3 separate regions of the Homo sapiens genome follow, and regions 1 and 3 are each linked to region 2. The links come from fine-mapping of genetic effects on gene expression. A gene starts in region 2. Each other region holds a variant in brackets. All regions are shown on one strand. Distances are between the middles of the regions. Region 1 has its middle 13 kb from the start of FAM225A. Region 2 holds the start of SLC31A2 (solute carrier family 31 member 2). Region 3 overlaps FKBP15 (FKBP prolyl isomerase family member 15).

Evidence for each region.
Region 1: its variant is fine-mapped to the expression of SLC31A2 in whole blood (TOPMed, PIP above 0.99).
Region 3: its variant is fine-mapped to the expression of SLC31A2 in whole blood (INTERVAL, PIP 0.91).

What each region holds. Positions count from the first base shown.
Region 1 is chr9:113,123,399-113,127,642 of GRCh38, reverse strand. No RefSeq gene overlaps it. Among named protein-coding and RNA genes, the nearest start is that of FAM225A, 13 kb to the right of the region's middle. The variant T/A (reference allele first, on the strand shown) is at 1,931.
Region 2 is chr9:113,148,602-113,152,845 of GRCh38, reverse strand. It overlaps SLC31A2 (solute carrier family 31 member 2), which reads right to left and starts at 1,839. Exons shown (of 4, transcript NM_001860.3): 1 at 1,766-1,839. The coding sequence starts at 1,771.
Region 3 is chr9:113,204,476-113,208,719 of GRCh38, reverse strand. It overlaps FKBP15 (FKBP prolyl isomerase family member 15), which reads left to right. Exons shown (of 28, transcript NM_015258.2): 3 at 1,424-1,508; 4 at 2,142-2,211. Among named protein-coding and RNA genes, the nearest start is that of FKBP15, 15 kb to the left of the region's middle. The variant A/G (reference allele first, on the strand shown) is at 2,138.

The DNA of each region.
Region 1 (4,244 bases), 25 kb after region 2:
TAAAATTTAAAGACAAAAATTATGCACAGAATTCTTGATCTGTACTTCTGACTCTTTTCTTAGGACAGACTTCTAGAAATGCAATTACTAGGTGAGAGTGGAGCTATTTTTAAGGCCCTTGATTCATAATTCCAAAATATTTTCCAGGAAGGTTATGCCAATCTAATACCTACCCAAATTTTGTTTTTCGGACAGTTATGGCAGATACCGCTGATTGTCCACCCAATATCTACTCTTTCCTCTTCCCTGCGGACAGACCCTGATTTTGTTAAGGATAGCAATGTGCCCAACTTAAATCTTCTCAGCCTCCCCTGCACCCAAACTGGCCACATGACACAGTTCTGGCCAATGAGATGTAAACGTAAGTTGTTGGGTGGGGCTTCTAGGAAAGTTATTTACAAGGAGGCAAACTCAACTAGAGCAAGATTTTTGCCCTTTGCCTTTTCTTTCTTTTCAGGCTGGAAGTGGGATCATATGCTATAGGTCATGGGTGTCTTGTAACCAGAAGGTGATGAGCATGAGGACACAAGCCACAAGGTCAGGCTGGGCAGGCAGACACAGAAGGAAGCAGAACTTTTGGTGGCACAGCGGAGCCATCACTCCAGTCCTAGACTGCCTGCTTCTATTCTCCTTGTTACCTAAGAAAAATAAAACCTAAGTCACTATAAATTGGGTTTTCTGTTGTGAGCATTCATACTTATTCCTAATTGATACAACAGAAATATTTGTGCATGTCTGAATTTAAAAAGAAAAAAGTTATGTATGGAGGAAGATCTGGGGATAAGAAAAATGAAGACATAGTGGAAACACAGTTTCTCTTTTGAAAAAATGAGAGAATAATGAGAGTCTGTATTAGGAAAATGACATGTCGCACTATATGGAGGTGAGGGACAAGTATGGTGGCTCACACCTGTAACCCCAGCATTTTGGGAGGCTGAGGTGGGAGGATTGCTTGAGCCCAGGAGTTTGTGACCAGCCTGGGCAACATAGTGAGATCCTGTATCTACAAAATATAAAATTAGGTGGACATGGTAGAGTGTGCCTGTCGTCCCAGCTACTCAGGAGGCTGAGGTGGGAGGATTGCTTGAGCCTGGAGGTTGAGGCTGCAGTGAGCCGTGATTGTATCACTGCACTCCAGCCTGGGCAACAGAGCGAGACACTGTCTCAAAAACAATTTTTTAAATAAAAAGGATGTGGGGGCCAGGCGCAGTGGCTCGTGCCTGTAATCCCAGCACTTTGGGAGGCCGAGGCGGGCAGATCATGAGGGCAAGAGATCAAGACCATCCTGGCCAACATGGTGAAACCCCGTCTCTGCTAAAAATACAAAAATTAGCTGGGTGTGGTGGCATGTGCCTGTAGTCCCAGCTACTTGGGAGGCTGAGGCAGGAGAATTGCTTGAACCCGGGAGGGGGAGGTTGCAGTGAGATCGTGCCACTGCACTCCAGCTTGGAGACAGAGTGAGACTCCATCTCAAAAAATAAAAAAATAAAAAATTTAAAAAAAGATATTAGGGTGGTCTGAAGATGTTTTCACCAATGGCCTCAGAGATCTTCACTGTCCAGGTAGGATTAAGGAAGCTCCCTTAATACTTCAAAGGAAACTAACTGTTCTTCTGCACATTCTCATTTCCTTTTACTTTCTGTGTTGATCCTAGGTAATTCTTCCTTGGACTTTTTCTTCCATATCTTCTACCTCACTGAAGGACTGAAGAAGGTTGACTGTGTTAGAAATTAAACTGAGGCACGATTAACAATTCAAAGAGTTTATTTGAGCAAACGAAAATCCATGGATTGGGCAGCACCCAACCGTGGACTGGAGCTTCATTTGAGAGGCTTGAAGGAAAGGCTTTTATAAGGTGAATGAGGAAGCAAAGCATGGAAAATAATTGATTGTTTACAATTATGTTGTTGCCTTATTTGGATTACCCAGA[T/A]AAAAGTCCCCTAGTTATGTAATTGGAGGTTAGCTGGAGGTTTTGGATTGGTGAAGCTTAAATTTCATTTCCTCTCAGTCAGTCATTTATAAGAAATGCATTTGACTTAGGTTTTGGTTTGCTTCTGTGGGAACCCAAGGCATTACAGCCACTTCAGTCTGATGGTTCCTCTTTAAGTGGGCCAGCAAATAATGCTTAAGGATGAAAGAGCAGGAAGAGGCCCTGAGCCCAGAAAATGCCTGTCCACTCGTAGATGCTAGGTGCTTGGGACACAAAAATGCTCAGGCACAGTCCCTGTCCTCAGGGAATCCCAAGAGGTTAGAAAAAGGGACATATATTTTTACAGTGCCATAAACAAATGGAGTTGAGATTACAGGAAAAAAACAGGAGGCATCTCCCCAATCCAAGGGAGGCAGGTCTATGACTTGGAAGAAAAGCAGGAGTTGCCACTACAACCACCTTTGGTGGCCTGCCTGTTTCCATGTCCTTTACTGGCTCCTCTTTACCAACCCTATCTCTTCTTAATTTTGTTTATTATTTATTTAGAGACAGAGTCTTGCTCTGTCGCCCAGGCTAGAGTGCAATCTCAGATCACTATTACTTCTGCCTCCCAGGTTGAAGCAATTCTCGTGCCTCAGCCTCCCAAGCAGCTGGGATTACAGGCATGCACCACCAGGCTCAGGTGATTTTTATATTTTTAGTAGAGAAAATACAAAAATTTTCCCCATGTTAGCCAGGAGTTGGTCTCGAACTCCTGGCCTCAAGTGATCCACCTGCCTCAGCCTCCCAAAGTGCTGGGATTACAAGTGTGAGCCGCCACACCCGTCTAAATTTGCTGTTATTAACAGACAGGATCCTGGGATCCCAGACTTCCTGCCAGCCAGTTTACAAAGGCCAAGAGAGCATGGGAAACTGAGATGAATTCTGACAGGAGAATTCCTGGAGTGAAAAAAAAGACGTGGCAATTATGGGAAGAAATAGGAAGGTCCCTGCAGGGTTAGGAAAAGACTGAATAAAAATTCCTAAGTGTCTAATCAGTATTGTAACTGTTGATCACCCACAGAGTCCTGGTTCTTTAGGAAGAAATATATCTGGAGCAGAGGAAAGCAATTGGTTAGCTTCTATAGCTTGGAAATATCCCTCCTGAATAACCACTCCCTTATGCTTTAATTTGGCCTCCACCAGTAGCATCAGGGTCTGGAGCTGTTATGAGCCGGGTCCACTAGCAGGGCACATAAGGGGAAGCAAGTTACTCACCTGGGTCACAGAAAGAAAAGACTCACACCCTTGATGCCCCACTGCCTCTGTGCATCCAAAGGGTCTGAATGTGTTTCCCAGGACGTGACATCAGGTGTCAGATGACAATTCCCATGGCCATCCTGGCGATGCTTGGGCTACAAGTTATGCAAGGAGCCTCTGATTATCTGAATGTATTCAGCAATGCGACAGTCATACACCTACGATTTGCTTTGTGTAGTCAATGTGGTGCAAGCTGGCCTTGTATAGAAATTTATGCAAACATTTCTACTTAGCCCAAATAGGACAAGTACATAATATTAATGAGTTTACTGTAACAACTAAATGTTATAATACTTAAACATCTTCTGTCATTTAATAGCTCTCAGTGAGAGCTATTTATTTAATACTCACAAGTCTGTAAAATAAAATCAATGAAAAGTAAATGAAAATGAATCATAGGGAAAAGTTCGCCTAGGATACCTGAAATTTCAGTGACTGGTTATGGGTTGGAAAATGAGTTTGAATAAAAAGAAAAAAAATGGTATGTTATCCATTGCATAGAGACAAATTCTTTAAATTCATCTGAATTTTTGAATCATTGAATTTTAAATTTCTATTTAAACAGAATTTAAATTAAAACATTCTTCAGGCTGGGCGCAGTGGCTCACACCTGTAATCCCAGCACTTTGGGAGGCTGAGGCGGGTAGATCACCTGAGGTCAAGAGATCAAGACCATTCTGGCCAACATGGTGAAACCCCGTCTCTACTAAAAATACAAAAATTAGCTGGGTGTGGTGGCGCACTCCTGTAGTCCCAGCTACTTGGGAGGCTGAGGCAGGAGAATCACTTGAACCTGGAAGGCGGAAGTTGCAGTGAGCTGAGATCGCGCCATTGCACTCCAGCCTGGTGACAGAGCAAGACTCTATCTCAAAAACAACAACAACAAAAATAAACAAAAACAAAAAAACTATATGACATCTGCAAGTTTGTATTGTCCTTCATATTTAACTAAGTATTCCCTTAGGCATCCATGGGGCTAAGTATCAACATTTGGTTAAGCCAGCAAATTATTTAA
Region 2 (4,244 bases):
GCCAGTTATCTTAGGAGCCCAAAACAGCCCAGACATGTTTTGCCATAGACCTGAACACCCACAGAACAGTAAGAGTAATTTGAAAGATTTCTTTTTGTTGTGCTAGGTCTGTGCAGACCCTGGCGATACAGAGATGAATGGGACAAGTCTTTGGCCCTTAGGGAGCTACCTGTCTATGAGGGGGGACATTTAAGTGAGCAAATAATTACAACAGGTTGTAGGTCAGAGAAAGGGAGGCACAGTGGAGGCTCCCTGGGGGTGCTGGGGACCAAGCCGCCTGAGAGACACCTGCCCTGGCCAGAGAGCAGTTGGCTAGGATGGTTCTGAAGCCAGAGAAGCAGGAGATAGCTGGGAAGATGAACTGTATGGTTTGTTCAGAGCTGGAAACACCCACGGAGTCCGAAGCCCCAGAGGGACGAAGACTCACCTGTCACTCAACCCTTTCTACTTTTGCCTTTTTGCTAGAGGAAAAGATGGAAGTCAGCACACCCTGACTTGAGAGAAGCGATCTGGGCTACAGTTTTCAATTAAAGGGCTTTGTGGTCAGATAGGCAAGGGGCAGGGCCCCAATCTTGTTTTCCTACTTGGGATGAATCTTGGCCTCTGAAAGTTTAACTGATTTGTGCTTTTTTCAGGGTGGGGCTGTGGTGAAGGAGGGAGCAATCCCTGGAACTTGTTTTCTTCTATATTTCTTCATTTGGGGTTACTTACACTTTGAGAAAAGCTTCCTTATTTGTAAACAAGGGTTGGGAAGGAGATGAAGGTCCCAGTTGCTAGGCTGACTGGCTGGGGAACTTTTGCAAGTGCTTTCCATCTATTTCCCTTTTTAAAGGACGGCTGATCATTTCACTAAATGGCCTACATACACTTCCTATATCTTTTTTTTTTTGTTTTGTTTGTTTGAGGACGTCTTGTTCTGTTGCCCAGGCCGAAGGTCATGGCTCACTGCAGCCTGGAACTTCTGGGCTCAAGCAATCCTCCTCATCCTGCCTCAGCCTCCGAGTAGCTGGGATTACAGGCGCCTGCCACCACTTGTGGCTAATTTTTGTAGAGACGGGGTCTAGCTATGTTGCCCAGGCTGAGCTTCCTGTATCTTAAATTCTATGACATTCTTCATGGGATGAAGAAAATGATATGACTTCTTCAAAGACGAACGAGTCTTGCAAGCTGTCGTTCTCTCCAGCCCAGGTGAACCCTACCAAGAAAAACAGCTTGTCTGAAACGCTGTTTTCTGACTGAAAGTGTAGGGAAGCTGGAAAGTAGCTGGTTCTGTTTTATTCCCCGAAGAATCAGGCTACAAACTTGACAAGAGCAGGGCCGGGGATGTGCGCTCGGTGTGCGCGCGGGGCTGCGGGCTGAAATGCGCCGGGGGTTTCCCTTTCGTGGAAGCCTTCCTGGAATCTCCCAAGGCGCTGCTCTCCGCCCTGGGGCGCCGGCCAGAGGTCCGGGGCCGGGGGCCCCGGACCCAGCTGTCTTCAGCCACCGCGCCCCCACTCTCAAGCCGCGCCACCGCGGGCGCTCGGTAACTGCTCGCCTAGCCGGACTGCCTCCCAGCAGGAGGGACAAATAAAGAGGAAAACCACAGAGCCACCGCAACCTATACCTGCCGCGTCCCCCAACCCTGTTCCAGCTGTTGGCAATGCTGCCAACACACCCTTCACCAGCCCCGGGCCAGCGGCAGCGAGGATTCGGGGTGCCGAGATGGCAGCTCCAGGAGACCCCGCCCCAACCGCCCACCCTCTTCACCGTAGCGCCCGGCCCTTACCGCCATGGTGAGTGCGCAGGGCGGGCGCCAGGGCCGCGTCTGCTCGCTCGGGTCTCCTCGCTCCGAGTCAGTTCAACCGCCGCCGCCGCCGCCGCCGCGATAGCTACCCTGGCCGCACGGATCACGTGGTCCGGGCGAGGCGGCGCGCGGGCGCCTGGGAGTTGTGGTCCCCACACGCGCCCTACTTCGGCGTCCTCGGGCGCGCCCCCTGGCCGAGACCCAGGCGCCTCGCCCCAGGTTCCCAAGGGCTGAGGCTTGGCGTTCCCGGAGTCGCGAGCGAGAGGGACCACCTGCTGCCCTCTGTCTTCGCCCTTCCTGTTTTGCACTTGGCTTGTCTTGGCGATTATGAGAATGTTTATTGCTCATTGTAATAAACTACCCCAAGCGTAACATATATTGAGTTGAAATGGGCAAGTCCGTGCTATGGACGCAATAGCAACACATTTGGAGTAAATTAAGTCAATTATGCCCTAGATTTTTAGTGTAGTCATTACAAGATAATTACATTTTTCTTTTTAGAAAAATATTTTCCAATCTGATAAGCCAAAAGGAATACACCCGTGTAATTTTGTTTTTCTTTGATTACTAGGGTAGTAAACTATTTTTCTTACGGGTACTTCCATTTCTGTGTATTGCCTGTTCATTTCACTGATCCAGTTTTTTGATGGGGAGTTTCTTGTAGGGTGAGGGATTTTTAATGGTTATTGATTCTTAAGCATATTTAGGAACCCTTTGCTAATCAGCCTATGAGTAAAGAGGCTCTTCAGAGAAACCTTACTAAGGACAGTATTAGCAGAGACCTTGAGCCTGGAGCTAACCTCAGTTCACATCCATACGCATCAACTATTGGCTTTGGGACCGTAGGCAAATAGCTTACATCTCTGAACCTCAGTTTTCTGGTCAGTAAAATGAAAATAATAATAAAATCTATGTCATAGGGATTAAATGAAAACATACATGTTAAATTATCATGTAACCTGGCAGTGGGAGCTTGTTCAGTAAATGGTAGAATCCTCAGGGTCACACAGCTTTTTTTCTTTTCTTTGAAACAGAGTCTCGCTCTGTCGCCCAGGCTGTAGTGCAGTGGCGCGATCTTGGCTCACTGCAACCTCCATCTCCCGTGTTCAAGCAATTCTCCTGCCTCAGGCTCCCGAGTAGCTGGGACTACAGGCGCGCACCACCATGCCTGGTTAATTTTTGTATTGTTAGTAGAGACGGGGTTTCACCATATTGGTCAGGCTGGTCTTGAAATCCTGACCTCGTAATCTGCCCGCCTCGGCCTCCCAAAGTGCTGGGATGCTGGGATTACAGACGTGAGCCATCTTGCCCGGCCCACACAGCTTTTAAGATTCTCAGTCTGAAAGCTAATGGAGCAGCTTCAGGGAGAGAACATGGGCCGTGGCACTGTGATGGGGCTGGAGAGGGAGAGCTGCTGCTGTCATGGTTTACTGGGCCATGGGGAAGCACTGGGGAGAAGGGCTAAGGGTATCTCTGAAGCATCTGGGTTCCAAGAGCTGGGGAGGGCTTTGGGTGTAGCTTTTCACCTCTCTGGGCCTTACATGGGAAGCAGGAGTAAGATAATCTGACCTTCACATAAGTGGGCTCTGGTGCACCCCACTCCCCCCACCTGCATTGAAGAATCTGCAACACAGCTTTATTCATTTGACGGTTTTTGTTGGCTTTGTCACAATCTGATGACCTTTACACTTACTTCTAACTTCCTCATGGATGTTTTGGTTACAACACTTAGCCAGGGAGTCCTAAAATTTCTTTCTGTACCACCAGAGGCACTCCTTCCCTGTCCCCCAGGCAGAGAGCTTGTTGCAAACCATGGGATCCTAGATCATAAGATCACAACACAGCCACCCAAGCCTGGGTCCATGGCAAGAGATTCCGGATTCTGTGTTTTGACAGCCCATGACTCCCCTCCTTTCACGGAGCAATAGTCTGTTGTTGTCTTTCCATAGCACACCTAGACCCCCCGAGACAGAATCCCCACTCAGGAAAGATGGCACTGCCTTGAGTGTCACAAAGATTATTTAGAGGCCCTTTAACCTGGGCTCATTTGTAGTCAGTTGATAGAGCGGAAATCCAACCAGTCATTTCTCCTTCTGAGGTTCAGTAGAGGAACTTGAGACTCATGAAAAGACCACATGCACAACATGTAATTCCTGCAGAATGTTGGGTCTTTATGTGTAGGTAAGGCTGTGTGATCCCCAAGGATGCCACTGCCCGTCTCTGGGACCTCGATGTCCCCATCCGTACAGTGAGGGGTGGAATGGATGACCTGCAACTGCCCTCCACGTGCTGATCTGCAGTTATAAGTGAGCCTGAGGGTGGAGTTGAACATGTTATGGCCAGGACCTTTGCATATTTTCCCTGTTAACTCCATCAACTAGCCTTCCATCTTCTCTCCAACGATACCTCTATTATTTTATATTTATGCCATGAGCAGTATTGTGGATCTGATGTGTGTGAC
Region 3 (4,244 bases), 56 kb before region 2:
AACAGTTGGACAGGATGTAACCAAACCTTAAATTTTTTATACTCCTTTACCCCATAATTCCATTTTAAGGAATTTATTATAAGAAGATAACTGGAAGTACACACAAAAATGTTGCATTTTAATTTATGTGTTTCTGTATTTTCTAAGTTTCCTACAATGCACTTGTACTCTATAATCAGAAAAAAAAGTGTTAATACAGAAAAAATCAAACGAGTTCTTTCAAAATATAAGTTCTTGCATGTCATGTCCGCATCAGTATTATCTCACTACTCTTCCATCACATTCATATAGTGAGTATAAATGTGATTTACTCTTAACATGGTATTTGAAAATGTTAGTGTTACTCTGTAGTCCCTTTTTTTTGTTGTTTTTTTGTTTTTTTTGAGACGGAGTCTCATTCCATCACCCAGGCTGGGGTGCAGTGGTGCGATCTCAGCTCACTGCAACCTCTGCCTCCCAGGCTCAAGCGATTCTTCCTCTTCAGCCTCATGAGTAGCTGGGACTACAGGTGCGCGCCACCACCCCCAGCTAATTTTTGTATTTTTAGTAGAGATAAGGTTTCACCATATTGGCCAGGCTGGTCTCGAACTCCTCGTGATCCACCTGCCTCGGCCTGCCAAAGTGCTGGGATTACAGGCACGAGCCACTGCGCCCAGCCTACTCTGTAGTACTTTGTGAAGTTAATTAATGGGTGTGATTTAAATATCTTACTGAATTTCCCACCCTAGAAGACAGGGAAGGGGAAATAACTTTATTTTCATATATTATAGCTGTCAAAATACTGGAAGGAGAAAATAAAATAGATGGACTATCACTTTTTAGACAGTACTCCTTGTCTAGCCAAAGACTTATTTGGGGTGTGTGGGTTGGGAGTTGGAGTCATGGGTTTCAGACCTAGGCACTATCATGGTATAATTGTGTGAGGCACTTGGGTGATTAGAACCTCAGTTTCTTCACCCCCAGACTAGATCATAGGGCTGCTTTGTGGATCAAATAAGGATAATCATAAAAGCATTACAACACTGACTGTAAATTATAAAGATCAATTTTGAAGCTAGTTCAGTGGTTAAAAATTAGTTTAAGGCCAGGTACAGTAGCTCACGCCTGTAATTCCAGCACTTTGGGAGGCTGAGGCAGGTGGATCACGAGGTCAGGAGTTCAAGACCAGCCTGTCCAACATGGTGAAACCCCATCTCTACTAAAAATACAAAAATTAGCCGGATGTGGTGGCACGCAACTGGAATCCCAGCTACTCATGAGGCTGAGGCAGGAGAATGGCTTGAACCCGGGAGGTGGAGGTTGCAGTGAACCGAGATCACGCCACTGCACTCCAGCCTGGGTGACAAAGTGAAACTCCGTCTTTAAAAAAAATTAGTTTAAAGCAAGAAGTGAATGACAACTTTGTTTTCTTGTTCATCTTCAGGAAATCAGGCAACACCAAAAACAGCACCAGCCACCATGAGCACTCCCACAATACTGGTCGCAACAGCAGTCCATGCATATCGATAGTAAGTCGCTGAGAAGGAACACCCTCTGAAGTTTGGTGGAAGGGCGTGCAGTTAAGCTACTTTTTCTCGAAAAACCTCTGTTTGTTGCAAAACGGTTATTTAGCCCTTCCACGGACAAAATATCAGTAGAACTTTTAACATCTGAATTGGAGATTTCTGTGGTAAAACTTGAAAAGCCATTATCTTGTCTACTGTCTTTAGGGAGTGCTTGTACCCTCAACAGCTGTCAAATGCTCAAAGAAAGCCTCTCCACTGAGATAGCATGAATGATAGATATTTATATTTAAAGAGTAAGGGAATAGTATATGAGCTTTAAATTATAAACTGCTGGGCCGGGTGCGGTGGCGCACTCCTGTAATCCCAGCACTTTGGGAGGCCGAGGCAGAAGAATTGCTTGAACCTGGGAGGCAGAGGTTGCAGTGAGCCAAGATCATGTCACTGCACTCCAGCCTGGTGACAGAGCGAGACTCTGTCTCAAAAAAAAAAAAAAAAAAAAAAATTTTAAACCGCTCACCTGTGTCCCTGCCTAGAGGCTGAATGACTGTTGTTCCCACTTCTGTATGACAGAAAAGAAAGCTGGTTCTGCAGAATTTAGGGAAGTATTAATACTTGTTGTTTCTCTTCCTTTT[A/G]TAGCACAAATGGTCAATATGTAAAGCAGGGCAAATTTGGTGCTGCAGTTCTGGGGAACCACACAGCCAGAGAGGTGAGAGTGCTCCCACATCTCATGTATATTCAGATGTCCCAAATAATACCAATGAGCTGGCTTTTATCTGGCTTGCCCGATGTCTTGTTTATCAGAAGATAAGGATGATTATTTGTATTGAATGTTAATTTATAACATCAAGCATATAGTAAATGATCACATTTTGCTTACTATTGTGCGTTAAAACAAATCCAACCATTCAAAATTGTTAAATTTGACCTTTGTGATATGATCCTAGCTTAAGAATTTGGGCATTTTTTTGTTTGTTTGTTGTTCAATTGTGGGGTGCGTGTGTACACACACATACACAAATACACACATATATATACACATACATATGTATATATAAGATAAAATTTGCCATTTAACCATTTTTAAGTGCATAATCCAGTGCCATTAATTGCATTCACAGTATTGATTGAGCAACCATCACTACTATCCATTTCCCAAACAGAAAGTGTAACCATTAAGCAATAACTCTACTTCTTCCTTTTTCCCAGCTGCCCATAAGGTCAAATCTCTTCTTGTTTTTATGAATTTGCCCTTTCTAGGTACCTAATATAGGTGGAATCATAACAGTATTTGTCTTTGGTGACTGATGTATTTCATTTCACATAATGTCCTGAAGGTTCACCCATGTTATAGCATGCATCAGTATTTCATTCCTTTTCATGGCTGAAAAATATTTCATTGTAGGTATATACCACATTTTGTTTATTCATTCATCAGTTGATGGACACTGGGTTGTTTATACCTTTTGTCTATTGGGAATAGACAAAAAAAGTATGTATCGTGAAGACTGACATAAAAGTATATGGTCAAGTTCCTATTTTGGCTGTATACTAAGAGTGGAAATTGCTGACTCGTATGGTAATTTTATGTACCACTTTTTGAGAAACTGCCAAACTGTTTTCCACAGCAGCCACACCATTTCACATTCCCACAAGCAATGTATGAGGGTTTCAGTTTCTTCACATCCTTGCCAGCATTTTGTTATTATTATTATTTTTAAATTCTTGCCATTCTAGTAGGTGTGGAATGGTACTTTATTGTGGTTTTAATGTGCATTTTACCCAATGTCTAATGTTGAGTATCTTTTCATTTGCTTATTGACCATTCATGTATTTTCTGTGGAGAGATGTCTACTCAAGCCCTTTGTCCATTTTAAAAATTGGATTGTTTGTCTTTTTGTTGTGGAGTTGTAGTAGTCTTTTAATATATTCTGAGTATTAAACCCTTATTTGCAGATATTTTATAGATTATCTTTTCACTTTCTTGATAATGTCCTTTGATGTACAAAAGTTTTTAATTTTGGTGAAGTCCATATTATCAAGTTTTTTCTTTTGTTACTTGTACTTTTGGTGTTTTATCTGAGAATCCATTACCAAAACCAAGGTCATGACGATTCACCTCTACGTTTTCTTCTAAGAGTTTTATGATTTTATCCCTCATGTTGTTTTATATACAAGTTGGGCCTACGGTAAAAAATTACTTGACATGTGAAGAGGTGGGAAAATGTAACTAATAATCAAGGGAACAAATAAACTAGGAGCAGACTCACAAATAACCTAGATATTGCAGTTAACATACAAGGCACTTAAAACAACTAGGAATAATATCTTAAAGAAAATAGAGGAAAAGTACAAAAGGGATGAAAAGATGGAGAATTTAAAAAGTTAGAATCTATAAGAATAATCACATGGCAGTCTAGATTTGAAAAATACAATTTCTGAAACTAAGAACATATTGGATGGGTTTAACAGAGTCAGAATACAGCAGGAGACAGAATTAGTGACTTCGAAGGCAGTAACATAGAAAATATTCAGACTGAAGCACAGAGAGAAGAAATAATAGAAAGAGACCAGGGCAAAGATTGATGTGGGACATGGTCTAACGTCCATGTAATTGGAATCCAAAGACAGTAGAATTATATCTTTAAAGTACTGAAAGGAAAACAAAACCCTGCCTATTACAGAATTCTATAGCAACAAAAATATCCTTCAAAAATGAAGGCAAAATAAATTTTCAGCCAA